Linked DNA regions of Homo sapiens. The protein of the gene in region 2 purifies or fractionates together with the protein of the main gene of each other region. This does not show direct contact. Each region holds a gene or a part of one and is shown on either strand. Other genes may lie near its edges.

What was found.
Region 1: the proteins of BCL11B (region 2) and CHD5 purify together in Homo sapiens (affinity purification with mass spectrometry; 2 studies listed by BioGRID and IntAct, with this or other methods). This does not show direct contact.

What each region holds. Positions count from the first base shown.
Region 1 is NC_000001.11:6,137,560-6,153,336, forward strand, and holds part of CHD5 (chromodomain-helicase-DNA-binding protein 5), read right to left. Parts: intron 14,978-15,777; coding exon 14,853-14,977; intron 13,597-14,852; coding exon 13,473-13,596; intron 11,854-13,472; coding exon 11,687-11,853; intron 11,517-11,686; coding exon 11,295-11,516; intron 9,313-11,294; coding exon 9,106-9,312; intron 8,865-9,105; coding exon 8,653-8,864; intron 6,597-8,652; coding exon 6,465-6,596; intron 6,373-6,464; coding exon 6,264-6,372; intron 5,047-6,263; coding exon 4,855-5,046; intron 4,770-4,854; coding exon 4,569-4,769; intron 1-4,568. UniProt on the Homo sapiens protein: ATP-dependent chromatin-remodeling factor that binds DNA through histones and regulates gene transcription. May specifically recognize and bind trimethylated 'Lys-27' (H3K27me3) and non-methylated 'Lys-4' of histone H3.
Region 2 is NC_000014.9:99,260,422-99,276,198, reverse strand, and holds the start of BCL11B (B-cell lymphoma/leukemia 11B), read left to right. Parts: upstream 1-4,001; 5' UTR 4,002-4,980; coding exon 4,981-5,038; intron 5,039-7,098; exon of another isoform or gene 7,099-7,135; intron 7,136-15,777. UniProt on the Homo sapiens protein: Key regulator of both differentiation and survival of T-lymphocytes during thymocyte development in mammals.

The DNA.
Region 1 (15,777 bases), on a different chromosome or scaffold from region 2:
CGGCCTCAAGCAATCCTCCTGCCTCAGTCTCCCAATGTACTGGGAATACAGGCGTGAGCTACCGCACCTGGCCTTTTATCCCCATTTAAAGCTCAGGGGGCCTCAGGCTGGAGCACTCTCCCAGGTACCCATAGCTAACAAATGGCATAGCCAGGATATGAACAGAGAAAGGGACCCTGCACTTGGGGTTTAATGCCCTGAGGTTGCTGATGTGAAATTATTAATCATTTTGTTGTTTATTGTTGAATTTGTGTTTTGTAACAAATATCCCAGGGGACAATGGAGTGTGTGCTGGGGGCGTGGAGCCTCCCTGGGACAGGTTCTCATTCCCTGCTCCCCTGCCCCTGCCTGGTGACCACTGTCCCCCTACTCCCCCTGGTGGGGGCCTGGACCTGGGTGCTGGTTGGGGAGGGGGAGCCAGGCACCCGGTCTATGCACCAAGTTCCAGGACAGGGCCTGGTGCCTGTGAGGGTCTGCACTCTCCCGGTGAGGATCCCCACACCTGAAGGAACACGACTTTAAAAAGCAAATTTAGGCCAGGCACAGTGGCTCCCGCCTATAATCCCTGCACTTTGGGAGGCTAAGGTGGAAGGATCACTTGAGGCTAGGAGTTGGAGACCAGCCTGGCCAACATAGCCAAACCCCATCTCTACTAAAAAATACAAAAATCAGCCAGGCGTGTTGGTGGACATCTGTAGTCCCAGCTACTCAGGAGGCTGAGGCGGGAGAATCACTTGAACCCAAAAGGCAGAGGTTGCAGTGAGCCGAGATCACACCATTGCACTCCAGCCTGGGTGACAGAGTGAGTCTCTGTCTCCAAAAAAAAAAAAGCAAGCAAATTTAAAACACCTTGGCATGTTGACAGAGACCACAGAAGAAAGGAAAAAGCTGTTTTCCTGCGAGCCCTGCATTTTCATTTTGCACCGGTCTCCCCCAGTGATGTAGGCCTGTCCTGTGCTGCACCAAGCCTGCCTCTCCCAGCAGCCCACATGCCTGTGAGAGAGCAGAGAGGGCCGAGGATGCCGTGCAGCATAGGCTTTGCCTGCACGTGGCACCTGGGTTTGCACACAATCTTTTAGCCGAGCATCGGTCTCCTCGCCTATCTAGGTGAAGAATGCTATGAGATCTCAAAGAGCTAAGTCTGTTTCTCAAAAAATCAGAAATAGAATTACCATATGATCCGGCAGTTCCACTTCTGGGTGTATACCCAAAAGACAGGAAAGCAGGGACACAAAGGGATATGTGCACACCCATAATCCTTCCCATCAGCGTTACTGACGACCACTAAAAGCCAGAAGCAGCCCAAGTGCTCAACAACAGATGAACAGATAAACAAAATGTGGTCTATCCCTGTGATGGGGGTTCTCCAGCCTTGGAAGGAAATTCTGACCCGTGCCACAACATGCATGAACCTCAAGGACATTCTGCTCAGTGAAATGAGCCAGTGACAAAAAGATAGATGTTTCCCGATTCTACTCATATGAAGTACCCAGAGTAGTCAACCTCGTGGAGACAGACAGTAGATGGGTGGCTGCCAGGGGCTCGAGGTGGTGGGGATGTTCATGTTTAATGGGGACAGTTTCCACTTTGCAAGATGAAAAGAGTTCTGCAGACTGGTTGCATACCAATGTGAATGTACTTAACACTACTAAACTGTTCTGTTGTTGTTTTGTTGTTGTTGTTGTTGTTGTTTTGGTTTTTCTGAGACAGAGTTTAGCTCTTGTTGCCCAGGCTGGAGTGCAATGGTGCTCACTGCAGCCTCCGCCTCCCAGGTTCAAGCGATTCTCCTGCCTCAGCCTCCTGAATAGCTGGGATTACAGGCACCCACCACCACGCCTGGCTAATTTTTGTATTTTTAGCAGAGATAGGGTTTCACCGTGTTGGCCAGGCTGGTCTCAAACTCCTGACTTCAGGTGACCCACCCGCCTCGGCCTCCCAAAGTGCTGGGATCACAGGGGTGAGCCACCGTGCCCGGCTGATTTTTTTTTTTTTTTTAAAGAGACAGAGTCTCATTATGTTGCCCAGGCAAGAGTACAACAGCTATTCACAGACACAATCATGGCGCACTACAGCCTCGAACTCCTGGGCTCAGGCAATCCTCCTGCCTCAGCCTCCCAAGTAGCTAGGACTACAGGTGCACACCACTGTGCCCAGCTGAACTGTACTTTTAAAAACGGTTAAGATGGTAAGTTTTACATTATGTGTATTTTACCACAACTCTTAACAATAAAATAGAAGAGCCAAATCAGCAAAGTGCTTGGCACACGGCAGGGTCCCAGTGTGGCTCAGGGGAGGTTCTTTTGCGTCTGATGATCCAGGGGCTCATCCATCTACAAAGTCACCTGTGGGATCATCGATTCATTCACTCATTCAACAGTTTCCGAGCATCTCTAAGAGCCACAGCTGCTAGGAGGCAGTGGAGGAGGCCGACCTGAGGGACTCGGAGGGCCTGTGCGAGGATCCACCAGCCCCCAAGGCTGTAGCACTGACATCTTCTAGGGGCCAATGGCTACAAGTCCTCATTCCTCAATGTGGAGAGGGTTTAGAAATGCAGAGGCTCAGGCCAGGTGCGGTGGCTCAAGCCTGTAATCCCAGCACCTTAAGAGGCCGAGGTGGGCGGATCATGAGGTCAAGAGATCGAGACCATCCTGGCCAACATGTGAAACCCAGTCTCTGCTAAACATACAAAAAGCGGCTGAGTGTGGTAGCACGCGCCTGTAGTCCCAGCTACTTGGGAGGCTGAGGCAGGAGAATCGCTTGAACCTGGGAGGCAGAGGTTGCAGTGAGCCCAGATCGCACCACTGCACTCCAGCCTGGCGACAGAGTGAGACTCCATCTCAAAAAAAAAAAAGAAAAGAAAAAGAAAAAGAAATGCAGAGGCTCGGGCCCCACCCCAGCACTGCTGGGTCAGAGACTGTGCTTTAACAAGACCTTGCAGGGTTCACAGCACCATGAGACCTCATGCTTATTAACTCACTTGACTCTGTGGGGTGTGTCTGTTAACTCCATTTTGCTGAGAAAACACTGAGACCCAGTGAGGCCACGTGACTTGCCAGAAGTCACACAGCTGGTGCACTGCATTGAATAGTGTCCCCCCAACATTCATGTCCACCCAGAAGCTCTTTTGGAAATAGGGTCTTTGCAGACATAATTAGTTGTCTGGGCATGGTGGCTCAATGCCTATAATCCCCATGCTTTGGGAGGCTGAGGCAGGAGGATCACTTGAGCCCAGAAGTACAAGACCAGCCTGAGCAACATACGGAGAATCCATCTCTACAAAAAATTTAGAACTTAGCTGAGTGTGGTGGTGTGTACCTGTAGTCCCAGCTCCCGGGAGGTCAAGGCTGCAGTGAGCTATGATCAATCACTGCACTCTAGCCTGGGTGACAGAGCGAGACCCTGTCTCAAAATAATAATAATAATAATAATAATAATAATAATAGGCTGAGCGTGGTGGCTCACACCTGGAATCCCAACACTTTGGGAGGCCAAGGCAGGCAGATCGCCTGAACTTAGGAGTTCGAGACCAGCCTGGGCAACATGGTAAAACCCTGTCTCTACCAAAATACAAAAAATTCGCTGGGCATTGCGGCATGTGCCTGTAATCCCGGCGACTCTGGAGGCTGAGGCATGGGAATTGCTTGAACCGGGAGGCAGAGGTTGCAGTGAGCTGAGATCGTGCCATACTGCACTCCAGCCTGGGCGACAGAGTGAGACTCCGTCTCAAAAAAATAATAATAATAATTAATAATAATAATAATAATAATTAGTTGGGGCCAGGCACAGTGGCTCACTCCTGCAATCCCAGCACTTTGGGAGGCTGAGAAGGGCAGATCACTTGAGGTCACAAGCTCAAGACCAGCCTGGCCAACATGGTGAAACCTGTCTCTACCAAAAAATACAAAATTAGCCGGCCATGATGGCGCACTCCTGGAGTCCCAGCTACTCACGAGGCTGAGGTGGGAGAACCACTTGAGCCCAGGACGGGGAGGTTGCAGTGAGTCGAGATCGCCCCACTGCACTCCAGCCTGGGCGATACAGTGTCTCAAAAAAATAAATAAATAAATAAATAAAATAAGTAGCTAAGATGAGATCATACTGGATTAGGGTAGGCCCTACATCCAGTATGAATGATGTGTTTATAGGATGAGAAACAGACACAAACGGGAAAACCCCATGTGCTAACAGAGGCAGAAACTGACGCGACAGCTGTAGGCCAGTGAACCCCTGCCGCCACCAGGAGGCTGGAAGGAGGAAGGAAGGGTTCTCCCCTAGGGCTTTCAGAGGCACGTGGCCCTGCCCTCACCTTGATTTCCAACCTCCAGCCTCCAGAACTGTGACCGAATACATTTCTGCTGTTTGAAGCCACTCCATTTGTGACACTTTGTTACAGGAGCCCCAGAAAACTGACATGGCTGTAACTCAGCCTCTAGGACAAGCCCCTCAGAGCCTGCCGGCCTCGGTAGCCCTCCCAGGCTGAGGGACCCCAAAGGAGTGCACGGCACCCGTGGTCCCTGAACTAGACCGGGGGCCTTCCTACCGTCCTTCCAAGGATAGCGAGCCCTCACCTTCATACGGAATACCTTCTTCCCACTCCGAATGGCGTTGTCCTCAAAGGAAAACTCGTTCTCCCGAATCACCGAGCGGCTCTCCTTGTCCCCCGTGTAGGTGACCACGTAGAAGTCGGGCGCCCACATCTCAAACTCGCGTTCCCAGTTGATGATGGTGGAGAGGGGCGCGCTAACCAGGTAGGGCCCTTTGGAGTGGCCCTGGAGAGAGAGGCCGATGCCGTGAGACCACCTGCCCTTGGCCAGGACCAGCCACCCCTCCTGGCCGCCTGCCCCGCCTGCCCACCTCCTTGTAGAGGGAGTAAAGGAACACGATGGTCTGCACCGTCTTGCCCAGACCCATCTCATCGGCCAGGATGGTGTCAGTGCCCTGGGCCCAAGAGAAGCGCAGCCAGTTGAGGCCCTCCAGCTGGTACGGGTGCAGTGTGCCGCCTGTGGAGTCGATGTACCATGGCTGCTTGTCGAACTTGACCGTGGGCTGCAGGGGAGGCAGCGGTTCAGACACGCCCCAGATCCTGGGCCACCAGAGTCCACACTACAGGCCTTTGCACATGCAATTCCTTCTGCCTGGAACACTCTTCCCACTCCTGTCTGTCTTCCTAACTCTTCTCCAGTTCTTGGATGGAACACCTCTTCCTCTAGGAAGCCCTCCCTGACTCCCAGCCTGGCTGAAGTGCTCCCACAGTGTCCTCCCATGGCAGCCCTGTACTTCTCCTATCAGGGAAATTTCCCGACTGTTGAATTCTCTGACTCTGAGCCCAGGTTGTCATCACCACCTTGGTCCTGTTCACTGCCTCCTCTTGAGTACCACACAGTGCCTGGGACATGTGGTCACTTACTCACCATTTTTTGGATGAACAACAAAACGAACATCCATCTGGGGCATTCGCAACGCCCCCAGTAACAGGCTCCTCCACTGGATCCAGACATTTACTTTTTTTTTTTTTGAGACAGAGTCTTTGTTGCCCAGGCTGGAGTGCAGTGGCACAATCATGGCTCACTGCAGCCTCAATTTCCTGGGCTCAAGGGATTCTCCTACCTCAGCCTCCCTAGTAGCTGGGACCACAGGCACACCACCGTGCCTGGCTAATTTTTTGTAGAGGTGGGATCTCACTACGTTGCCTCAAACTTCTGGGTTCAAGCGGTCCTCCCACCCCGGCCTCCCACAGTGCTGGGATTACAGGCATGAGCCACCATGCCCGGCCCATTTGTCTCTTGATCCTGCTCCAGGTCACTGGCCCCATGCAGTCCTCCCAATGGACCAGGCCCATCTGCCTTTCCCCAGCATCTGACAGGCGCCTGATAGTCCCAGGCCAGGCCCTCCGTGTTCTGTGGATACCCACCAAGGGCCCCTAGAAGACAGTGTGTCTTCTGAAACAGCTACCCAGGGCTCACTGGCCCTCGTCTCCTCAGGGCCAACCCAGGGCCAGGCGCTAGTGGACACCCAGGGAGCTCTGCTGAGTGAGTCATCCTGGGTCTCCTCCCAGGTGAGAGTGGTGTGTAAGTAGCATGTCAGCTGCAGTGTTATGAGGGGCCTTCCAGCTGTCCTAGCCTACATGGGCATGACACTGTCTGCATAAGCCATGAGGGCCCAAGGAAACATCCTTTTGAGAACACACACCCCCTGCACATTCAAGTCTGAGGTGGGCAGGCCCTGGCAACCCCACCCACTGCTGCCCCACCCTCCCCACTCACGTCCACAATGGGCGTGTCCGGCGGCTTCTCCTGCTTGTCGTCCCTCAGCTTCTTGCCCTTCTTGAGCAGCCTCTTGGGCAGCCTGGTGTCTTCTCCCAGCATCAGCTCCCTGGGAAACGGCATTGGAGGCAGGTGAGCAAGGCTCAGCCCAGGAGCAGGTCCCGGCAGCCTGTGCCTAGCAGCCGGATCCCTGCGACCCACCTGTGGCCCCAGTAGGCCTGCTTGAGGTTGTCGTAGTAGGGGATGTCGATGTCATCGATCTCCCAGGTGCACTGGTCGTAGGGCAGGTCTTTCCACTTGATCAGGTAGTGCACATCCCCCTTCTTGTCAAAGCTGCAACACGGTGAACAGATGTGGGTCGCTCAGAGCAGTGGCCACAGCACAGGTTTGATGAAGGGCACCTCCCAGGATGCAGAGCCATTCACACCCAGGGTCCCCTCGGATGCTGGGCCCAGCCAGGAGGAGGAGACGAGGGCAGAAGCTCCAGGGAGGTGCAGCGGCTTGCCTGGGGCCACACAGCGAATGAGAGGGGGATGTGGCAGAGCTGGAGAGGGACACGGAGGCCAGCTAACAGAGGAGCAATGAGCCAGCCTCCCACATCCTTTGCAGCCTCTGTGGCAGGGATGAATCCCATTTGTCACAGGGTCTGGATTTTCACAGGAGTTCTGGATTTCTAAGTTGGAAAGTTCTCCTTCCTGCCAATGGACTCAGTTTTCTAACTTAAAATACGCAAAGGACTTGTGCAGTGCCCACGTAGGGTGAGGAGTCATCTCTGCAAAGTAGATAAGGATGCAATTCCTGCGTGTGAGGTGGTCTCTTCTGGGGACACAAAGACCCAGTGACCAAGCCCAGCAGCACACAGCTTGATTCTGGCCACTGGGAGGGTCTTTAGGGCCTCCCACCCACCCAGGCTAAGGCAACCAGGCCAGAGGAGTGCTGGAGGGCCGGGCTGGGGCTTGACTACCCCACACAGCAGTGCCGAGGAGGCACACAGACCCGGTGAGCAGCGGCTGCTGCGGGCCTGGGAACATTAAGAGAAAAACCGATCCCGTTACCACGGCAACCGATGTTTGTTTGTTTTCCCATACATAATTGATTGTTTTGCAGATTGGGGGAACAAATCTGGGGGAGATTCACCTGCCCCACTTTGGGGCAGAGAGAAAAACTACCATGTATATTTTTAGCATGTAATTTAGTAAAGGTAGAAAACCATGGGCCAATTCATTGCCGGGCTCAGGTTCCCACAGGAACTGACCCTTGAAGGTCATTCTCAGGGAGGCCTGGGGAGGAAAAGGGGGGTGTCCCATAGTTGAAGGGGGGCAGTTTTTCAAATTCCGCGACCCTCGTACTGAAGACCACCCACAGCCAGCCTCTGGCAAGCTCCTGTCACCCGTGCAGCAGCCTGTTCCCTAAAAGGGCCTCAAAGCTCAGCAGATGGGAACCGGGATTGAAATCTGAACATCTGGCTCAGGCTTTTAACCTCTGCTCTACCCAACAGCTGCCTGAAGCCAGAAGCACTGAGTGTCAGAGGCCACCGATCCTAAGCCCCTCAAAAACAGAGGCCACAGGGTAGCTGGGATGGGGAGCACAAGCTCCAAGCTGCCACCAGGCAGCAGGTACTCTGGGCCCCACCCCAAGGCCCATCTGTCAGCCACCACCAGTTCTCAAGCACCTCAACTCAAGAATCAGCAGGCATTCCCACCACCCACCAAATCAAAACCAAAGCCCACGGGCCTCCTGCCTCTGGCTCTTTGTGCCAGCCTCCTGCAGCCTCTGATTGCTAAGGCATCCCAGGGAACTGCCAGACTGCTCCAGGAAGAGCTGCTGCTGGGGCACTGGGGGGTGCAACAGTAGCTAAGAAAGCAGGTCCTGCAGTCAGAAAGCATGGGGTTCAAATCCCAGCTCCACCCCGTGGCTGTGTGATTCTGGCGACTTAACCTTGCTGTGCCTATTCTCACATCAGTAAAACAGAGGTGAAAGTAAGACGCCTCCCTCCCAGGGTAGGCAGTGCTCAGTACAGCCAGCTGCTGTTACAAACGCGGGGGAAATGTGGACATACTCCCACACCTCGGGCGTCCCTCGTCCTCAGAACCCTCTTGCTGGTATCAAGCACTAACCCAGCATGAGGGTCCCGACGCCCCAGGGGTGTGAACACGTATGCATGAGTGTGCCGGCATGCATGGGACGGCCCCTCTAGCAGGTCAGGCAGATCTCCAGCACTGGGAACCCTGGGCCCTTCCTTGTGCCCCTGCTGTGCCCACATGTGGTTCTGCACGGCAGCCCCAAAGCAAGGGCCCTGGCACCCTGCGCTGCACCCATTTTACAGGGCAAAGAAGCTGACGTGGCCCGGCCCCAGCGATGGGCAGGGTGGCCGCCTGCAGGCACACACCTATGGTTCAGGATTCGGTGAATCATCATCCACTCTGGCTTGATGCCATAGCGGTAGAAGCGCTCCTCCATCTTGGCATAGAGGGGGTCCTTGTTCTTCCTCTTCTCGCTCTTGCCGTCTTCATCCCCAGAGCCGTAGTCAAAGGGGGGCGGCTCATCCATGTCGTTCTTTCTTTGGTAGTTGCGATACATCACCGTGTGGTACAGCTCCAGCTGCTCATGGAGCGGCACAAAGTCACAGAAGGGAGATGGGCCATGGTCCCCTGCATCTCCCTACCCAGCTCCTCTAGCCCCAGCCCAGGTCCCAGGCAGGACAATCCTCCCGCTCAGCACCACCCCAACTCCCAACAGCACCCCTCAGTCAGAGGCGCTTCAGCCCCTTCCCGCCAGCCCAGGAGGGTCCAGGGCTCACCAGGTCCCGGGCCTTAGCACAGCCACCCTCCCGGGCACTCACCTGTAGCTCCTTCACCCAGGAGCAATGCCAGTAGGACAGCCCTGCCCACTTGACAAAGAACTCTCTCTCAGGGATGCCCTCCAGGGGCTTAGGTGGAGGGAGGCTGGGCTCCACGTCAGGCCCCGGCAGCCCCACCATGAAGGGGGCAGGGGGCTCCGTCCACCTCCAGTGTAGAATCCGCTGGACTTTGCCCTTCAGTGGGGGGCACTGTGGACAGAGAAGGGTCCCCAAGGTGGGGCTCAGCTGCAGGGCCCCACCCTGAGGCTCCCATGACAGCAGGCTGCCATGCAGGCTCCCTCCCATCAGTGCCACTGCCCCCAAGTCAGAACAGTACCACGGTGACGCCATGACATCCACCCCGTCCCCAGGAGCCGCATGGGTCATGCACACAGGAGATGGGCAGTGGGGGTCTGTGAGACCACGTGGCCCTTTCACTCAATGGTGAACTTATCGGCACCCAGAATATCTGAGCCAGCGTAGGTGAGACTGCCATGTGCATAGGACAGAGGGGGAAACTGAGGCCCACTCGGCAAGGGACAGCAGAGCAGGGAGCAGAACATGAGATTCTGGACTTCCCCTACCTTAGGTCTTCCCATTGCCCCCTGAAAAGAGGTCACATCACTGTGTGATCCCCAAGCACTCAGGGAGCATGAGCCCTGTGCTGGAGCCCAGGGACACGGCAGCCCCATCCACCATCCCTCACCCGGGGCAGGGCTGCACCCAGGCACCGTGCGTCTAGGCTGGGACAATGAGGCCCCATCTCTGGCAGCCCACAGACACACTGCAGGGGCCCTGACAGATGCTAGGGTGACAGTGAGCTGCTGGCTGGCAAAGGCAAGAAATACAACAGCCACAAACCACACCACTCGGGCCCTGAGATGGGTGGGAGCAGCCTTGGCCCTCCAAGGAGGCGGTGCTGTCTGACTGGACAGGGTCGGGGGTGACTGATTCAGGGAGACAGCTCTGGTGGGGATAGCAGGTCCCAGCTTTGCTACTACCTGTCCTCGGAAACTCATCCAAGCCTCCAGAGCCTGCTTTCCCATCTGTAAAATGGCCCACCCCTTCCTCCACCTACCAGATCTGTGGTGCCACATCACACCTGAAGGCATTCTGGAGGTGCAAGGTACACCACACAGCCAGCCTTCCTTTGGCCTTGGTGACAGCAAAGGCCGAGAGGCAGAGGAGGAGGAGGAGGACATGGGAGGCAGGAAAGGCTCCTCCACTGGCTCTTGGGGGAGTGGAAGAGGGGACCCTTCCTACCCAGGCCATGGACCCTCCTACCCCCATCCCAGCCCCTCAGGGAAGAAGCTGAGAGGAACCCCACTCCTGCCCCCCTCCCATCCCCAGGGCCTTCCATCAATCCTAGGAAAGCACAGAAGGCTGCACCCCTCAAAAGGGTCCTCCCCTGGCCCCTACACAGACACAGACAAGTATGCGCACGGATGCACGCACACACATACACACGCACAATGCACACAGGACGGCCCAGGGCTAAAGGAGGCACAGCCCAGGACCTGAGGGGTGGAGGATCTGGCACCACAGGGGGCAGGACAGACAGCTCAGAGCAAGGGGCCTTCCGATGTCTACTGTGACTGGGGGGTGACGGATGGGGGGTGCCCCTCTTCCTGTAGAAACTGAGGCTCCCGCCCTAGGAGCCTCCTGCCCTAGAAGCCTCCTGCCCTCTCCCTATCCCCAGCCTTGGAACAGGAGCCAGGTCTGGGGTGGCTCCAGGAACCTGAATTTGAGTGGATAGTTCTGCCCTTGTGTGGCCTTAGGCAGGTCACTCTGCTTCCCTGAGCATCAGTTTTCTCATCTAAAAAGGGAGTAACATGCCTGGTGCCAGAATACTCAGTAATGTTAAAGGACACTATGATGGATGTGGAGCCCTTGCAGAGCACGTGGTCACTGAACAGTGGTCGCGGTGTTGGCATGATCACCACACCTGTCTGCCTTTCCCTAACACTCATGCCTCCCGTCTCTAGGGGAGTCAGACGCGGAGAAGGGCGCGAGGAAGCTATTGTGGACGGGGTCTCGAGCAGCGCGGGCGAAGCTTTGCGGGATCGGCTACCGAGGCGGGGCAGGAGCCGGCAGGGGCGGGGCCTTTTGAGGAGGGCAGGCCTTCCCCTGGGGGCGGGGCCTGTTCCTGGGGTGGGGCGGGGCGTCCGGCGCGGGGCGGGCGGAACACTCACAGTACAGCGCGGGCAGAGCCATTCACCGTTTGGGATCTCGGGCAGCGGCGGGTTGAGGCAATGCAGGTGGTAGGAGGAGGGGCAGGCGTCGCAGCAGAGCAGCTCGCCCCCGTCCTTGCACACGCGGCAGAACTCCATGTGGTCGTCCTCCTCCTCCTCGCAGCCGCCCTCCTCCTCTTCATCGTCGTCGTCCTTCGGCTCCCACTGGATCCCCTCCTTCTCCTGGGGGAGGAGGCCAGGTGGAGGCACCCTGGGCGGGGTCCCCGCTCCACCAGGCCCGACTCCCTCCCTCCCCTACAGCATCTCCCCGCATTCTGCCCCCAAATGAGGGCACAGGGGTGGGGGAGCCAGGCGTGGCCCCGCCCCCAGCCCGGGGCTCTGCCAAGGCTTACACAGTGGGGGCAGCTCCACTTGCCCTCGGGAGCCTTCTCCAGCTCTGGGTCCAGGCATACGAGATGGTAGGCCCTCGGGCAGGTGTCGCACAGGATGATCTCCCCACCCTGCTGGCACACCTCACAGTAATCCTGGTGGTCTGTCTCATAGCCGTCACCATCATCAACTAGGGTAGGGGAGAGGCAGTCATGGAAGTCCTCATCCACACTCCCAGCACACAACCAACTGCATCGCCCCAGGCCAGACAGGCACAGAGTAGATGTCTAATAGAGGGTGGATGGAAAGGTGGGTGGGTGAATAGACTGATGGTTGAGGTGGTAAAAGGGTGAGGAGATAGAAGATGGATAAAAGGAAAGAAGGAAGGAAGGAAGGGTAGGAGAGTGGGTGGATGGGTAGAAAGATGAATGGATAAATGGATGATGGATGGATAGACAAATGGATGGATAGATGAATGGATGGACAAATGGATGGATGGATGGATGATGAATGGACAAATGGATGGACAAATGGAAATGGGTGGACTGATGGATGGATGGATGGATGGACAAATGGATGGATGGATAGGTGGATGGAAGGATGGATGGATGATGAATGGACAAATGGACGGATGATGGATGGATGGATGGATGGACAAGTGGATGGATAGATGGATGTATAGATGGATGAATGGACAAAAGAATGGATGGATATATGGATAAACCAAATGGATGGATGAATGGATGGGCAAATGAATGGATGATGGATGGATGGACAAATGGATGGATGGATGGATGGATGGATGGATGGGCAAATGGATGAGTAATGGATGGACAAATGGAAGGATGGATGCATAGATGGACAAATGGATGGATAGATGGACAAAAGGATGGATAGATGAATGAACAAATGGATGGATGGGTGGACAAATGGATGATGGATGGACAAATGGATGATGGATGGACAGAGTGGTAGATGGATGGATGAACCAATGAATGGATAATGGATGGACAAATGAATGGATAACGGATGGACAATGGATGGATGGATGATGGATGGATGGACAAATGGATGATGGATGAATGGACAAGTGGATGGATGGATGGGATGGATGAATGGATGGACAGATGGATGGATGGACAAAAGGATGGATGGATGGATGGATGGATGGATGGATGGATGGATGGACAAGTGGATGGATGGATGATAGGATGGATGGATGGATGGATGGATGGATGGATGGACGGACGGACGGACGGACGGATGGACAAAAGGATGGATGAATGGATGGATGGATGGATGGTGGATGGATAGCTGACGGATGGATGGACAAATGGATTGATGATGGATGATGGATGAATGGCTGGATGGATGAAGGATGGATGGATAAAAAGAAGGGACTGAGGGAAGGAGGGAGAAGGAGGGATGGGAAGGAAGGTGAGGTAAAGATGGGTGTTAAGTGGGTGGGGGGTGACTGAAGGGAGGATGGCGATGAGATGAAGCACTTCCCTCTCCAGTCACCACACTGCTAATGCAAATGCCCTGGGGTAGCTCCCACCATAGGTTCCTTGTTCTTTCCTTACTGGGACAGGATGCCCCTCCCCAGACAGTAGAAACCAGGGCCGTGTGGGAAACACAGGGGCCCCACCTGGCTGAGACATGAGGATGCCCTCCCCCTGCTTCCCACGGGGAGGTTCCATGCCCCGCACATCCACCCGGCAGGCCGAGAACCGTCCAGATGGGGAGTCCTACTCGTGCCCCACTACATCCACCCAGCAGGCCAAGAACTCTCTGGAAGGGGAGTCATACTCCTCTTCTTCTTGCGCCTCCTCTTGCTCTTCTTGCCCAGGGCTGCAGAGCATTCGGAGCGCACGGAGGCACTGTGGATGCTGGCGCTGTCGAAGTCCGACTCCTCCCTCTCATCTTCTTCACTCTGCAGGGGAAGACAGGGTCCTGTGATCCCAGGGCTTCACCCAGAAGGCTTCGCTGGCCCAGGCAGTGTGGGGTGGGACAAAGCACGGAAGAGGCTCTGGAGACACAGTGCTCTCTGTGATTCATCTCAGCCCCCAACACAGCTGAAAACCTCACATTACAGCCTGCCTGTCCAGCCTGATGTCCCACCGCCTACCCAGAGCCCTGCTCTCCAGCCTCAGACACTTCCCACAATTTCCACCTCTGAACAGCTTCCCAGGCCTTGCCCTCCATCCTGCCAAACTCCTAAACATCCTTCAAGGGGCAGCCCTAGGGACACCTCCTCCAAGAAGTCTTCCCAGATCTCTCCTTTACTGGACCTACTGTGGCTGCGTGTGTGCCAGGTCTGGCCTGTCCTGTCTGACTGGTACATCACGGGCTCTCCACCAGCAAACATGCCTGCCAGGTGACGAGTGCTACAGGACCACGGCCCACTGTGGCTGAGCAGCGGGCCTGGTACACAGTATGTGCTCAACAAATATCTGCTAAGCTGAACTGGACCGTCAGCTCCAGGGCGGGCCACACCTTCTCTCCATGCTCCCCTCCAGACCTAACACTGGCTCCTGCCATGGTGCAGGGAAAGAGCTTCCAACTCCACCCACCGCAGGGCTGGGGTGAGGTGAGGGAGGCAGCTACCTGTGGGGGTGAGGAGGGCGAATGCCCCTCACACTCACAGAGAAAGGGGGGCCCCAAGGCTGAGTAAGACCTGGGCTTAGTGTCTGAGCCTGGGCCCAGAGCTGGCCCTGAGGACAGGAGGAGGTAACTGGGGCTCCAGCCAGCCTGATCCTACCCACATACCACTTCTCTAGGGTCCAGCCCCCACCCAACTACTCCCCCCGAGAGCAGACCTGGGTGCTGGGCGGCCAGGCCCCACCAGGACAGATCCCTCCACCTCCTGCCCAAATGGAGTTGCAGCTGTGGACAGCAGGAGCCAGGACTGAGCTCCCACTCAGGAGGGTGAGCCAGGGGAGCACTCCCTGCCCAGAGTCCAGGCTAGAAGGGCCCTTGGAAGGATTCAATCTAAACTCCTCATCACACAAATGGAGAAACTGAGGCCCAGCACACCTGCATGTAGGATGGAAGGAGAATAGTGGAGGGGTGCGACCTGCCCCAGCTAGTTTGTAATGAACTGAAGGCCCTCGCCTGGCCCTTGCGTGCTCATGTGCAGACACACATGCATGCAAATGCACACACACGCGCACACACGCACACACTCACCGAGGAGCCTTTCTTCCTCTTGTTGCTGATCCCCCCGAAGCGGAACTTGAGCCCGGCCGTCTTTTTCCCTTTGCCCTTTTTCTTCCCATCTTTGGAGCCTTTGATCTTCTTCCTCACTCCAGGCCCTGAAAAACAGCAGTGATGATAGCCAACCACTGCCACCACTGACGGCCTGCTTCCTGCCATCATCTCACTGAGCTCTCGGTTACCCAATAAGGAAAGGGTCATTTCTACCATCACCCCGTTTCAGATGAGATGCCTGAGGCTTGGAGAGGTAAACCCCTTGCTTAAAATCACACAGCAAGTGAGGCAAAAACCAGATGACGGCTCTGACTGGAGGCTGCCCTGACCGCCTTGCTGCCCCTTGTCCATGACCCACAGAAATGTGGCCCTTTTGGGAGGATCCCCTATACCGTCTCCAACCACTGAAAGGAGGCACTAGCCATCCCCCACAGCCAGCAGGGCCACTGAAGGCACAGCCGCCCACCTGTGGTCCATGCCTGAGCCCCCAAAGGATGTCTTGGAGCCAAAAGGCCTTTTCCCACCTGCCAGCCAGGCAATGCTGGTCCCACCCAAGACTGCCCCACCTCTGCCAGTCAACCCCAGCAAGGGCCAGCAGGGCTGAGGCTGTTTTTATGGAGCTGGCCACAGGGCAATTAGCTACCTGGGGAGTAATGACCCAAGAAGGAAGGGGGGCCTGGAGGCAGGGATGCACACCCCACAGAGGCAGCCTCTCCCCAGGCCGTCCTCTGGCCACACCACACACACGGACATGGAGCTAGGAGCCCAGCTGCACCCTCCATGGCGCCGCGGAAAATCTATTTCAATTTTCCAAGCTCTGAATAAGCAGCTCATGGAATCGATAGCTCAGCAGCTGGAGCGCGAGAGGAAATGAGAAAACAAGGCAGGCTGGGCAGACAGGGGC
Region 2 (15,777 bases):
GGTTGCTTCTGAGTCTGCCCTATACCTGTGAATATGAAACGATTTGCCCTCTCTTTGCATGGTTTTCTTCTTCTTCTTCTTCTTCTTCTTTGTTTTAAAGCACCAAAAATGAAGCCCAAAGTAATTTGGTAAGATGTGCTGTTGAATTGCTACAAAGTTGACTGCGTTTCAGAGGGTGGATCTGTGTTAAAAAGAAAACAACAAAAACAAATGAAATGTCAGTTTTCTTTCTGCAGAAACATTAGGACTTCCCATTTCTACTGACACGTCTTATCTTGATTCTTTCCAAATTTTTGTAAAGACATAAGAGATAAAATATAACAGCTCAGAAGGCAAAGATAACATTGTAGGATCTCGAATAGAGTCCAACCTCAGCTGAGTTAAGTATTGAGAATCGTTCAAAGAATTTTAAACAAAAAGCCTGGCTTGGGGGTCACGTGTCTGTTTAATCTGCCCCCACTGCATGGTGTGTTACACGCAGCACACACAGGGAATTAAAGCCCCACATAAGGTTAATAAAAATGCACTCTGATTTGATGAAATGATTTCTGATTTCTGAACTATTCCTCTATAAAGAAATTTAAAGTGACTGAGAATATGGAGGATTATCTGCTGGAATGCACTGTGAAGCTAGAAAAAGAATAGCAGGGAAATATTTGTGAGTTCAAAAAGCTTTTTGACATCTGCTCTGTGTGTGTGTGTGTGTGTGTGTGTGTGTGTGTGTAAAGATAGTGCAGAAAAGGTGGCATTTATTTCCATGTGATTCCAGCATGCACAAAGCCCCAGCTTTGGGCCCAGCACACAGTAGGTCTGCAGCAGGTGCTAGAGAAATGAACCTGGTTTTAAGATATTAGTTCAGGACCACATTTGGACCCACACTTTTTCCTTTTACATTTTCATATGTGAGCCACCTGCACCCTCTTTTTTGGGGGTGGGGAGGGGGCAGGAGTGACTTGTATTTTAAACAAAGGTTTGGTGAAGAAGAGGTGGGGTGGGGTGCGGTGGGGCGGTGCAGTGACCTTCTCAGGAGAGTCCTGAAGCCCCCTCTCGCCTGCCTGGGGTGCTGAGGCAGGGGTGGGTACATGGCTGTGGGCCGAGGTCGACCACCCCCCTCCCGCCCCGCCTGCTGTCTGGGCATCTAGAGAGTGGGGAAACATTAGTACGGGGCCAGCTGCGGAAGCCTGGCAGGGTCGAGGGAGAGGTCAAGGTCGGCCGAGAGGCGGCTATTGATCCGGCTTGGAACGTGAGACATGGAGCGCAGCAAGACTAAAGGGGGAGCTGTGAGACCAGACATTAACAGCTTTGCGCGCTGATGAGGCCCGTGCCAGACGGGCAGAGGGAAAAAGAGGAGACTGGAGTGGCAGCTGGGATCGCTCCCTGCCTGCGCCCGGCCGCCTCTCGGGAGAAGAGGAGGAGGAGGAGGAGGGGAAGGAGGGGGAGAAGGAGGAGGAGGGGGAGGAAGATGCGGAGGAAAAGGGGGAGGAGGAGGGCGAAGGGGCCGGCTCAAGGCTGGGCAGGGGCAGAGCAGCCTCTCCCCGGCTGCCGCGAGGTGGAGCGCGCCGGCGGGCGGCGGCGTGTCCGGCCCTGCGTCCGCCCGCCCGCGCGTCCCTCTTCCCGCCGTCGGGGCAGCGCGGGGCCAATGAGGAAGTGCTCCTCGGGTCCGTGGGGCACGCGCCGGCCCACGCCAGCTACTTCCTGCTGGGAGTGGGGAGGGGGTGCCCCCTCCCCAGGCACGGCCCCTTACCGCACGCGGGGTGGCGGCTGCAGCTGGGACTCCGAGAGCCCTTGCGCCGCTCGCGGAGGGGCTCCCTTTTCCTGAGGGGTCCTCCCCGTCCCGCCTTGCCACTGGCGGGGTCTGCCTTCCTTGTAATCAACCCCAGGAAGGTGAGGGTCGTGGGTCGGGATTTCGAGTCCCGGACCGCCGGCGGCGCTGGGCTGCAGGCACGCCGCGGTGTTTTGGGTCCAGACCTGTCCCTGACGCGCTGTGTGTCCTAGGGCAAAGTGCTCACCCTCTCTGGGCTTCACATCGCTAGTTCTCAGAAAGAGAGCGCGAGTTGATCTTTCAAATTTAGAGTCCGGGCGAGTAGGGATGGCCAGTTTATGAATGTCTTAAAGAAGTTTATTAAAGGTGCGTGTGGGCATATTTTTTTTAAGCCACTTTCCTGGAAAGATTTTCCCGGTGAGAGGGATGGCAGAAGAGGGAGGCCCTACTAGACTTTGGACCACGTGGAGGTGGGGTGTTGGGGGTGGGCAGCCGGGTGCAGCCTGCCCGGCCAGGGCGAGGAGGTGCAAGTCCGCGCCCCGCCCCCGGTCTCCATCCGCTCGGCCTCGCGTCCGCCCACCGTGGAGCCCACAGTTTACAGAACTGCAAGCCAGGGCACATTTTATTGTTATTATTTTTTAGGGTATGGGACTGGAAGGGATCTCTTTCTGTTCTCGCTCACGGACTCTGGGCGCTGTTAAATTGTTGGTGCCATCGCCCCACCCAAGACCTTCGGGACGAAAACAAAAACCCCCGTGTGCCCCCCGAGGAAAAGGCCCCGAGGGAGGCGGCGCTGAGGCGTCACGGCCTCGCCATGCGCCCGGGTGAAGCCGCCGGAGCCAGGCCTGGGGGCGGAGTGGGGTGGGTGCAGCTGGACTCGCCCGCGAAGCCTAGCCGGAGCCAGGCCCCGACCCGCCCTGGCCGCCTCCAGAGAAACCCTGAGAAGGGAGAGGAGGCCAGCCGCGTGGCGCGCCCAGCCCTGGAGGCCAGGTCATCAAATTGACAAAGTTGGCCACAGCCTGGGGAATGGGGGGTGTCCACGGGGGCCGTGGTCTGGCCTTGTCCCCGGGCCACGGAGAGGCCCCACAACTCCTCTTGTCCTCGCCGGTTGGAGATCAAACGGCTGACAAGGCAGCTGCGTCCTTCCCAGTCTGACAGGCATTTCCAAGTCCTACCCTGGGCCGAGGAGCGCGGGGGGCGGGGTGTGACTTCCAGGTTGCTGTGATTGTCAGGGGCGCCTCCTGGAGTCACCCACCCGAGTATCTGCGGAGATTTGGCCACACCTACTCCTGGGCTGGCAAGTCCAAGTCCCTCTCCCACGTGGAGCGCCCCGGTCCCTTTACCCTCTCGCTTGCCATAGACCCAGTTTAGGAGGTGGGGTCGTGTTTGACCCCAGGAGTTAATCGGGGTAAGGTGAGGGGAGGGGACAAAGATTTGAGTGAAAATCCTTTTCCAAGTGGGACTCAAACAAGGTCTCAAACACTTCTCACCCCCTCACGTGCTCTTGATTCTGTTGTCTTAGTGTCGTTTATTTTGTCATCCTCACCCTCCCAGAGTCTGTAATACCAGGATTTATATGGAGACACTTTTTGGAAGTTGAACTCCAACATCTACTCCCCTCCCCTCGCCGCCCGCGACCATAAAACAAAAGTAAAAACTACCAAGCGACTTTTCCAGGGAAACGAAGCGATTCTTACTGTCCCCCCAACTCCCATGTCGACCCCAACCCTTTTCCACAGTCCACGCCCCCACCCCCAAAGTCCAAGTCCGAAAGAGCTTTTGGGTGGGTGGAGACTTGCATTGATTCAATTTAGTTCACTCACACAGCACCCCGCCCCCCTTCTCAGGGGGTCCTGCTCCCAGGATGGAGGAGATATAAGGACGATTTTTCTTTTATTTTAAAATAAGCTGCCCAGTGGCCCCCCCCAACCCCCTCCCGCTGTTGCGCAGCCGGGGCTCGGGGGAGATGAGCGCACAAAAACGCGGTTTGCACGTGTGTCCGGCTTGGGCTGCGGGTGTGCGCAACTGGCGACTGTGTGTGTGTGTGTGTGAGTGTGCGCGCGCGCGCGAGTGTGTCTCTGTGTGTGCTTTCTTGTTCTCTTACAGGGTACAATGTTAAAAAGCCACCGCTAGTCGCCCCCAGTGCTCCGACTCTCTGGGTCTTTTTGTCTCTAGTGCAGATTAAACGTCACGTCCGCACTTGAACTTGAATTTTATCCCATTGTACAGAGGCAGCCCCAGCCATAGAGAGACCGAGAGCTCCCAGAGAACCCGGACTCCGCCATCTTCACGTTGCAATCTATAGCTCCCAGTCTGCGCCCGCACCGACCCAGGCGCACTGGGCGAGCCGCCCCTCCGCCCCGCTCCCCCCGGGCCCGCGGCGCCAGGGGAGCGCTGGGGAGCGCTCGCGGGGACTCGGCAGCCCCTCCGGCCGGCGCCAGCCTGCCAGGTGAACTGGGAAGGAGCCTCTCCTGGTGTCCCCCCAGAGCCTCGGAAGGGTCAGTCTCCGAGAAAAAACAAAAACAAAAACAAAAACAGGCAGCCCGCAGAAAACCCAGAAACAACCGAACCGGGGCAGTTTTACATTGCTTTGGGTTTTTTGAGGGGGCGGGGTGAGGGGGTACGAGACAAGTCCCCAAGTTTTCTTTGCTTTTTTTTTTCCTTTGCTTTTTCTTCTTTTATTTTTTTATTTGTTTGCATTTTTTTTCCCCTCCTGGTAGAAGTGCGCTTTCCACCTACCAGACCCTGAAAGAAAGTGTCAGGAGCCGGTGCAAAACCCAGTTTAAGTTCAAGAAGACATTTGCAAGTGCAAGAGGCCAAGCAGTTTGAAGAAGTGTAAGAGATTTTTTTTCCTTCGAAAGAATATATTTTTAAAGAAACCAGCCAGTCCGCGGAAAGCAACAGCAGTTTTTTTTTTTTTTGCCTCTTTTTCTTATTTTAGATCGAGAGGTTTTTCTTGCTTTTCTTCCCTTTTTTTTCTTTTTGCAAACAAAACAAAAAACAGCATAGAAGAAAGAGCAAAATAAAGAAGAAGAAGAGGAGGAAGAGAGGGAAAGAGAGGAAGGGAAAAAAAACACCAACCCGGGCAGAGGAGGAGGTGCGGCGGCGGCGGCGGCGGCGGCAGCGGCGGCAGCGGCGCGGCGGCGGCTCGGACCCCCTCCCCCGGCTCCCCCCATCAGTGCAGCTCTCCGGGCGATGCCAGAATAGATGCCGGGGCAATGTCCCGCCGCAAACAGGGCAACCCGCAGCACTTGTCCCAGAGGGAGCTCATCACCCGTAAGTGTCTGCGGAGTGCGCGCGAGGGGCCGGAGATGGGGCTCCGGGCGTCTGGGGCTGGGGACACCGAGCCCGGAACAGCCGAGCCTGGCCAGGCGCCGGGGCCGCCCGCTGGCTGGCAGAGTCTACGGCGTCGGCCTGGAGCATGGCGGGGGGCGGGGGCCATAGGAAAGTTTCTTTGCAGCCCGGGGAGTTGGGGCGCCGAGCAGCCGGACGCGCCTCGGGCTCGGGGGCCTGCGGAGCCGGCTCCGGGCCGGGGAGGGGGCATGCAGGCTGGAGGAGTGTGTGTGTGTGCGCGCCGAGCCCGGCTGGACGCTCGCCCCTCCGAGCGGCGTGTGTGGCGGCGGCGGCGCTGGTGGCGGGGTTTGGAGAGGAGGGGGAGGGGGCTGGGGGAGCGGAGGGGGAGGGGGAGCCGGGAAGTGGGGAAAAGTTGGCGAGCGCGTGGGTCCGCGCTGACGGCGCGGGCGGAGGAGAGCGGGGTGCGTTCCGGCTGGGGGAGCCGTAGGGCCAGGGGCGGCCGCCGGCTCCGGGTCCCCGGTCCCTGCGCCCGGCCCAGCAGGGTGCCGGCCGCGCCAGTCCTAGGATTCCGCAGCCGCCTTTCTCTCCCCTCCTCCTGCTATTTGCAAAATAATCCAGCTGCGCGGCTGTTTGCCGGGCTCAAGCCCCCCTCCCCACCCCCCACTTCCCCACCTCCGTCTGTCTCCTGGGATGATCTTGTCTTCTTTCCCCCACTTCAAAAAAGGTGGGGGGATTGGGGTTGGTGAAAAATCCCCGCCACGAGGAAAAAAAAAAAGGTTGTCAGTTAGGAGTGGGAAGAGAGTGATGCGCTTGTAAAATAGTAAAAGAAAAAAAAGAAAAAAAGGAGACCCATCAATCTCGTATCCATCTTTCTATCTCAGTATCTTTCATCTTTCCTATCTAAATAAACAAGGCAGGTCGCAGTGGAAATCCACCGGCTGAAATCGTGTCGATTTCAAGCATGTGGCTGGGCGGGCAAAGTCAGGCAGCGGGGCAAGACAAGCAGCAGCTTCCACCGTCCCTGTTGGGTTTATTTAGCAGAGGGGAAAAGCGAGCGCGAGCGGGCCAGGTACGGTGTTTGCAGGGGAACCCGCCCCGAGTCCCCGCACACTTGCACCGGGAAGGTGGCTTTGCGGCGCTCCCCGCCCGCCGCAGCCCGCGGGGCGGCTTCTTCGCTGCGCGCGAACATTTCCCCGCCGTTCTTTCTCTCGCGGTGCCTGGGTCGCCGTTCCTTTTTTTTTTTTTTTTTTTTTTTTTTTTTTTTTTTAACTGCAATAGAAATAAAACATCCTCTGGGTGCCATCGAGACCGCGGGCAGGTTATATGCTTGCAATCCGCCGCGCACCTCGCCGGGCTGGGGCCGGGCTGCCCGCGCGGAGCTCGAGAGGGCTGCGCGCCCAGTCACCGCAGAGGACTGGCTGCCGGGCGGCCGAGAGCCGAATATTTATGTTATATTTTAAAAAATTTAAATAAATAAATAAATATATAAAGTGGTTCTCCCCTCCCCTGAAAACCCAGCATAGGAGCCATCTGCTCGGAGCAATTGCTGTTGCCATCTCTCCTTTGTTACAGCAGATACATTAGTAAGAATTTGTGGATTTATTATGATTTTTTTTGGGGGGGGGGGAATAGAAATTAAAGTGGGATTCGCCTTGGGAGAGGGATGCCTCTTTGGAGGAAGGGAAGAGGACTTCTCTTTTATTTTTCGCCGTTGTAACACCAAAGAAGACTCGCCGGCTGCGTTTAAAACAAAATGTTTTGCAGCTAGATTTGAGCTTGGTTTGATCAAGGTCTTTTTTGCCAGTTGACATTTCGATCCTTTACCAAGCCACAGCAATCGCTTATTCTACACCCTTCCCCCTTTAGATGGGGTGGTTGTTAAAACGTCTATACTTGCAGAGGCTTAATTTCTCCAGGAGGCAATTTGCCCCACGTAGCCTCTGTATAATTGCAAGGGTTGTTTTTGAGGAGGGGGAATTGGGGGGGTCGGGGAAGGGGGAGTGGATGGGGGTGCACTGCCAAGCTGGCAGCAGCGGCGAGCCAGGAGTGGTTGCAGTTGTGTGTAAGGGGAAGAAGCAGGTAGGTTCGCTTTGCTTTGGCTCTCCTTCTCCTGGCATTCCTGGGACATCAGGCGAGAGCCCTGGCCAGAGGACTGGTGGCAGCTGGGCATGGGGGTGAGGGGTGCCTGGTGCAGCACTTTCCCATCCTTCATTTGTTCCCTGTCTCGCTCAGCCCTGCTCAGAGCCACGCTGGGGAAAGCCAGCTGACACTGGAGCAGTGGCAGGGAGGGAAAAAGAGAGAGGCAAAGGAGAAGAGAGGTGGAGAGAAAAAGGGGAAGGAGACCAGAGGGCAAAGGAAAGCCGGCCTGCCTTTGAGGGGCACACGGAGCCCAGGCTATGTGTACAGGTTTAAGCTAGGAGAGTGGTCCAACCAGTTTTCAGACAAGGCTATTTATTATCCAAAAGCAGCTGGCTTTTCGTCTGTCCTGTGTCACCTGGGAGGGAGGTGGGAGAGCAAGCAGGGGAAAGGCAGGAATGGGGTGCACTTTAGCCTCTCTGGCCTCTGGAAGTGCCTCTCCACAAATGATGCAGGAGCCGTGGACTCAGGGTGCTTTGGAGCCCTGGCTGGCAAAGCGGGTGCTGTCGCATCCTCTACTTGGAGTTCACATTTTAGATTTTAAATTCCAAAGATACCCCTTAAAACATGGTACATCTTTATCAGTTGGGTGGCAGCTCCTGGGCCTGTGGGGCAGCAACCTCAGGTCCTTCAGGGATGATGCAACTGCAAATAACTGATGGCCTGGGAAACAAGAGGGCACACAAATAGCACGCATGGTCTTTGTGGGTGGGTGGCGGTGGGGAGGGGAGAGGGGGGAGGGAGCGTCTGAGAAGGGCTCCATAATGAGCTAGTTAAATTTACAGACAGGGCCAGGGACAAGAGGAGTGAGGTAAAAAAGAGTGAGAGACAGCTGGTGATGGAAACCTGGGCTTCTGGTTTGCTTCAAAATGTTTGACCCAGATGGATATGGCTTTTAAAAGCAGAGGACAGACACAGCTATTAATAAAAAAACAAACACAAAACAACACAGTGGCAATCGTGCCGAGGGGAGGTTAAGGGGGATCGGCTGACCACGCAGAGGAAAGGGCCAGAGCCCGCTGTGCCAGACAGGGCCAGGGTGAAGGGAAGAGTACTTAAATCCAAGAAGGAGCTTGATGCTTTCTGAAGAGACCAAGGAAAATAAGATGTCCACGGTAAACTGCGTAACCCCAGTCAAGGTGATTTTCTCAACAACCCACCAACAGGTTTCCTAGGAAGATTAGTAATTTTCCGTATGAATTCACGATTTTGTAAAACAACTAGAGACCCAAGCAAGATTCAATGCAAAAGTTAGGCTAACTGTGTTAATTCCATGGTTACCTTTTGAATTAGGTTTTGCTGTAGCTGTGTGTTTTGAAGGCAGCGGTGCTCACAATTATCTTAACTCCCCAGGGTAGAGTATATCTCCAGTGGTCCACATGTCTTTCAGAATTGGGCCTCCGATAAATTTCATAAGACATAGCCCTCTTTTTTTTTTTTTGGTTAGTTGGTGGGGGGGGGGTGAAGTTCCTCTCCCTTCTGCACAGAAGGGAACCCCATATCATTAGAAGTGTGATATAAGTCAGCTGCTCTGATTCAATGGGAGAATAAAAACGTGTTCACCAAAGGTGTTATGCCAGGCTGATTTTATTCATTTGTAATTCACACCTGAGAGAAAACAGCCGTGAGCATATTTTAACAGCCCCTAATATTTTTAAAGGGTCTTTTTTCCCTACCTGAATGATATGATGTACATATGCATATTTCTTTTCTTTTCTTTTCTTTTCTTTTTTTTTGATGGGGAGGTTGCTATCTGCCTGTGCTTGGCCTTGGCGATTTTTTGTCTGGCCTTTGAAATATTTCATAACAGAAAACTAGGCATTTCTGAAGTGCTGGGGTGAATGCAGTTGCTTTTGTGAAGCCGGCCTTAGAGACATCGAGGCTGGGTTAGCTGGTTGGGTGTGTTGTGTCAGTGACCAGTGTGGAGGGCTAAGTGGGTCCTACTCAACCCAAGGGAAGCCCAACTTTGGGTGCATTTGAGAATAATTAGAATTGTGTCTCAGGTGAGACGGAAGCACAGAAAACAGTCGTTTACAGATACCAGTTTCTAGCGCCTTCTCAGAATGGAGTTCTTGGCACTGTCTTATAGCTTAGAACACGGCTTGCACCAGCCTTCACTTATCCCCTTTTCATCTCCTATCTCGATTGCTTTGCATTCTCTGTTGCTTGTTGTGATAAAATACTTTCCAAAATAAACTTTCAGTTGAATTGGCTTTTGGTTGATGGCAAGCTGAAACGCCGAGCCGCGCCTAGCGCCACTTGGCAGCTAGGGGGAGCTCGGTGCCCGTGTCATGGCTTGGCGCCTCCGCTACAATGGGCTAGGAACGGGCTTCCATCAGCAGCGGCGGCAGTTTACGTTGCTGCAAAATACCTTAAGTGTGAAGTTGTAATATTGATTTTCCAGCAGAGATTCGTGCAGGACAAAATGAGAATATAAGTTTGAGAAATCTATTTTCAAGCTATCGCCATTGATTTACAAGCCCTCACTTGGCAGATGGGGGCATTTTCTTTTTCTTTGATTTTCTTTCTTTCTTTTTTAACAATTAAAATTGTGAGTTTTGAATGGGTGTGTTTTCCCTGATTCGTCCGTGGTCTTGACGTTCTGAAAATTCTGCTGCGTTATTAAGGCGCTGGTGATCGGGCTGGGGAGGTCTGGGGAAGGCGTACTGCTCATTTCTGTCTTGCATGTCACAGACCCAGGGAACAGTCGAGAGTTGCTGCTTTTGGGAGTCGTGTACCTAAAACAGCTTGATGAATGGAAATCCTTTTAGCTCAAATTTTATGACACTTGGATTCTCAATTCCATTTATTAGGTAATGTTCCCACTGAACTAAGGGAAATAGCACCGTTCCCCAAAGATTTAAAATGCCGACTCAAATAACATGTAAAACTTTGTTTGGAAAGAGTATGTGATTGCTAGAGCCAGTCTTGATCACATCTTTCACCCCAAACAGTTGTCCTTTATGGATGGCTTTTAATGAGAGGATTTCTCCCCTAAACATGTAATCTAGTGATGGGGAATATATGTGCTTTTGATCATAGGATTTCTAGATTTATAATGTCTTCTTTCCCAAGTTGAAGAAATCTGCAGACTGCACCCTGAGTCTTATGCTAGAGTTCAATATATGAGCAGAAGAGGTTACCCTGCGACAGGAAAGAGTGCTTTATTCTAACCTGAAAGAGAAATAAATTAGGTCAGACAAAAGCCTAGCGCTGTCGTCAGCTGGAGAAAGAGCCTTCACTCTCCAGTACACAGGGCCAGCAATTTATCTGATGATTTCTCTACTTCATTTAATGTTTGAATCGAGCCAGTTGTAAGCATGTAGTGGCAGCGAGCTCACTGGACCACTCAGAGATGAAGAGGCACGGTGACCTCGAAGTCTTGGGCCGGACGGTGGTCTCTGAGCTGCAGAAAACCGTTAAAAATCAGTTTAGCAATCTCCAATCCTTTGCCTTAGAACTCAGGGGAGTTTCACAAGCTGTAACTAAACACAGATCATAGATAAGACAATGCAGGAAAAAATATATGGGGGAGGGAATGGGAGGGGGTCAGGTTCTTGTCCGTTGGAGACTCTCCTTCATCTCCCATGGCTTAAGGATGGACCTTCTGGCTGCCTGGTTAGGCCTCACCTTTAGCTGAAACTCTCCAAAGACTTTGGCCTCGAGGTTAATGTTGGCTTCACATCTGGGGAGGACAAGGAGAAAGTAAATGGTCTTTGGGGACTGTACCCTGCACCACATGGTTGAGTTATTGATACCGGCTGAGCATCTTTCTCTGAAGACGGTGTTAGCTGTAGATACACTTTTGTATTTATTAATGGGGAAGGGTACAGAAGACACTAGGAATGAATGTCTGTGTCATCCAGCTGCCGTGAGTATGCTTTGTCACTTTGCGGCACTCTTTTGACTCAGGCCATTTGGCCTGAGGTCCTGTGCGGCACTCTTTTGACTCAGGCCATTTGGCCTGAGGTCCTGTGTGCTCTGTCCTGTCCCTACTCCCTGATCCCACTCAGCTTCCTTCCGGTCCCAGGGAGCCAAATGTCAGGGAGATGTGCTCAGGCTCGGTCCCCCTCTTGCTCCATCCCTCCCCAAGAAACGCCGTGTGCTGACTGCCTCCCTTGAGCAAGTATGTTTCCCAGGGCGTGGGTAAAAAGTGCCGAGAGCAGGCTATTTGGAGACGCGTGGAAAGAGAAGGACACATTTCTTGCGTCTTCTGCACAAGCCAGTGAGGAGGGTGAGCAGAGCAGCCTTGTTTTTTGCTGGCAAAAGTGACACTAGATGGAGGCTTGATGAATGGTGCCACATTCACGGGATGTTGGTCCAGCATTTTGACATATGCTAGTCTTTTGTGCAGTTGCTGAAAATCAAGAAATTCATTCTTTTTTCTTTTTCTTGTGGCAGCTGATAATTTGCTTGGGTGTTGAATAGCCAGCCTGAGCTATTTTACTGTAATGAAATCCCAGACCACACAAAATTAAGTCACTTCAAAGTAAAAAAAGAAAAAAAAAATCCTCTCTTTTACATAACTTCTTTTTTATGGCCCCCTTCCACTTATTTTATTGAAATACAAATAAATACATTTGTGAAATGTTCTAATGAGTTTTCTACTAAAACAACACGCAGAAATGACTCAAGAAAAGTTGAGTGCCAATATTATTGTGATTAACATGTGCCTCAGAAATGGATGCACTGCTAAGAATTAAAAAAAAGGGGGGGGGCGGTGTCATGTTTAAATTCCTACCTTGGAAAAGAGATGTCGAAAGCACTCCTGCCCTTGCTATTTGCTGTTGGCCTCAGATAATCCAAACTCCTCCAGCTAAAGCCTTGAGGTCCAGTGTCCTGTGTGGAAGCCCTTCTTTTCTTCCGCACCTTTGAAAAAAGCATAATGTTAAATAAAAACAAATCTCTTCATTTGCCCACAAAGAGTGCTTTTTTATCACATCGTTAGGAGCCCGTTGTGGCTCTGAAGATTGAAGGCATTTGCAGTTTTATAGAACCTGCTAAATGTGTTGAGAAGGATTGCTATTGTGGTAAATCTTTTCCTTTTCTTTTTCTTTAAAGCGCCTATTTTATTTGTCAAGACTTTTATTTGTAACCTTTTAGTAATGGCTGAGACCTGTGAATATACCTGAGTATGTTTTCCTTATTCACTTGTTCTTTTTTCTGCTCTTGTGCTGGGGAGACCCAGGCTCCTGGGCTCAGTTTTTGGGGTTCTGGAGAGGTGTGTGCATTATTCTTTTTTCTGCTCTTGTGCTGGGGAGACCCAGACTCCTGGGCTCAGTTTTTGGGGTTCTGGAGAGGTGTGTGCAGTGGGGGAGAGAAGGCGGTTGGACTCCATAGAGCAACTGAGGATATTTTTCAGGGAGCTGCTTAAGCATCCTAAAATTAGGCTGGAGTCCTGCAAACAATCTGTACACAGGGAGACCCTCCCCAAACATTCGACTTTCCCGCCTGGAGTCTGTAGACCAGAAGGTATGGGAGTGAGCCTCTTCCTGCATCTAAAACCTCTTCACGGATCTGGAGTTTCCACCTCCTGGCCTGCAGGCCAGGCCCAAAGTTTCCGCTGCTGGCGGAGTCAGCGGGACCCTGGTCATTTTCCTGGGAAGCCCACACTGGGAAGCATGTTTTGCACCGGCCGCCTTCCCTTGCTCTCCCTCTCACATGTCAGAAACGGCGATCGAGGTGTGTGCCTCAGCTGAGGAGGGGCAGACAGGACCTCATGGGGTGGTGGCTGTGGTATGTATCTGTCCCTCCAGGGAGGCAGCCTTTGGAGGGTGTCAGGAGGGTGCAGAGCTGACCTGGAGCAGGCTGGACTCCTCTGACTGTCTGCTGAGAGGGTCGAGGGTCAGGACAGAGAGGTGTGATCTGGGTCTTGCTTCCTGCTTCAGACTCCGCCTGGCTGTGCCTTCCCAGGGTCCCCACCCCCAACTTGTGTCCTAATAACCCTTCGAGACCCCCTGTGGACATCCTCCTGACACCAGCCTCCCTCTTATCTCCATTTCCTTCTCTGCCAGGCACTTCATTATTCCCTCCGTTAGGGGAACTTCATAAAATCTCTTGTCGTGCCTTTAAGCGTCATCTAGTCATAGATTATTTTCTCCACCAAGAATTGATTCCTGCTCTCTCCCCCTCCACCCTTCTCCTCCCCCCTCCCTACGGTTGTTATTTTCTCTTGGATCCAATAAATTAAAAATGGATGGCAGCTCAGAAAGTGTTGTGCTCCGTCGAGTGTGCGTGTGGTGGCGTTTCCGTGTCGCCTGGAGTCCCAGCCCCTCCCCAAGTGTTCACGGAGAGGAGATGAAAAGATCTCTTCGTAGATTATGGGTAAGCATGGGCTCGCTGGCAAGAGCTCCCTCTTCGTAGGAAGCAGGTGTAAAGTCTCCAGTCGGATGCAGAGCTCGGGCGGATGGATGCTGAACATTTCTTGTAAACATGCGTACACATCATGATGGCGGTTGTGACGTTGGTGGCACACGATTTTAAGAGCCTGGGACCCATCCCCCCACATCCTTCCCTTTCCCACCCCCGTCATCACTGAAACAATAATTCTGTGTATGTTTCTCCTGGACTGTAGCTTAGCCATTAAAGATAAGAGAGTTGGATTTGAATTAATGCAGGGTAAGGAGGAGCAGCAGCCCACGTACTGTGTATGTAGCAATGCACATGTGTGTGTGCAGGCAGCCACGCACATGCCTGTGCTCTGGGGACAGCAGGCAGCAGACCTCTCGGCTGGAGTTCCCCTAAGGGCAGGTGCATGGGCAGTTGTTAGAGATGGGCCAGGGAGGGCGGGGTCCTTGGCACCCTGTGTGTGGGGGAGTCACTGGCCAGGTAAGGCCCTGCTGAAAGCTTGCAGCTGCTGGGGGCTTGTTGGCTGCTTGGCTGGGCCTGTGTTAACGATGTCTTTCCATTTCTTTCTTCTGACTCAAATTCCTTCCCAGCAAAGCCGAGGCATGGGGAAGTTTGTCTTGGGATCAAGTGCTTCCCCTTTCACTTAACAACGATGTCCATTATTATTTGTGATTGCTTCTAAATGCATTTACCAGCTGGGAGGAGGCCTGGCCTTGTAAATAAAATGTGGTTTTGTTGTAAAAGAAAATCTAACTCGTGTGTTTGTGTGTGTGTGTGTGTAAATACAGATTTGTCCCTGCACTTTAGGATTTAGCATTTCAGAATCCGCCTCAGCCCTCTGATATCTGCCTTTCGAACAAGTTGTCTGCTGCATCCATTCATTTTTCCTCTTAATGAGTCAAACATTTCAGCAATTGCTCTACTTTATTCGGCTCATAATATATTGAGAGCAGCAATATTCTGCAGGGCTGCCCGACACTTGGGGAGCTTTTCATGAAAGCAGAGATCATCTCAGAGGAAAACCTCATCTTGGCTTTATTTTTTTAAGGCCCGAGTTTGCTGGACAAGGCTGCATGAGGGGCTGGCCTGTAGGGTCTGGGAATTTGAAAGACTGTTTTCATTGGTCTTTTTCCTGGTGCTTTTTCGTCTCTGGGTGGCAGGTTGGACCACTCTGCCTGTTAGAACAGAGGCCTGGCTCTCTGAGGCTGTGCAGAGCCGGGAGACTCAGGTGTCCATAGGGCAGAGAAAGAGGGGTGTCACTTTGCCCTTCCCAGGGCTTGGCTTTCTCCTTTTATTTCTTCCATTATCGATACAGTTCTAAGGAGGGACACATGCACACATATGCAGGCACCCTACACGCCTAGCTTGGTATCTGCCTGCCAGCGGAAGTGAAACCACAGTCTTTGGGGGTGTCTACAAAGGCCTTGAACGTGAGCTTTCAGGCCCACTTGGTCCACTTACTCTGACCCAGAAATTTGGGGCTGGGGGTGACTCTGCTGCCTGATGTTGAGGGTGACCTTGCTACCTTCCTGGGAAGTGTCGCACACAGCAGGCCAAGGCACAGCGCCACAGCCTGGGTGGTGGGGAGAGGAAACCCCGTTCTTTGGAATCGGGTGAACACCCTGTCATCTCAGGGGTTTAACTTTCAACGCTGAAAGTGGGAGGGGAAGGAGATATTTTTTGTTTGTTTCTTTTCCTCCCAGACTCCCTTAGAGGCAGTGAGTTGGATCTCTGGTCTGGGACGTGGAGATCCCAGCTCAGAACTGAGCCCTGGAGGCCTGGATAATCCCGGGGCTGTCTCGGGGACGCCAACAGGGCCTGGCTCCCAGGTTGGTTGGCTGTTAGGACTTGACGCAGAAATCAGAGCTGCAGCACAGCAAACGGCTTTGGACACCTTCAAACTCAATTACGGGGGCTCGCAGGGCTGCTGCATGAGGAAAGTGAAAAGGCAGAGACTGCCAAAAAAAGGAAAGAATACCAGATGTTACCAAAAATAAAAAAATAAAAAAAAGAGGAGAGAAAGGAAAAAGTGCTGGTACATAGTCTTGGCAAAAGACGAAGCTGAGGAGGAGGGGTGCTTGCGAACAGGCACGTGTGACCTCTGCTAATTTTTAAATTCATCTGTGTTTCTTTTGAATTAGAAAATGAGTTTGAAATTATGTAGTTGAAAACCTCCTAGCAGAGAGGAGATATTTAGGCTTGCTAGAACTCCTACTCAGGAGGGCGGACGAGGCTGA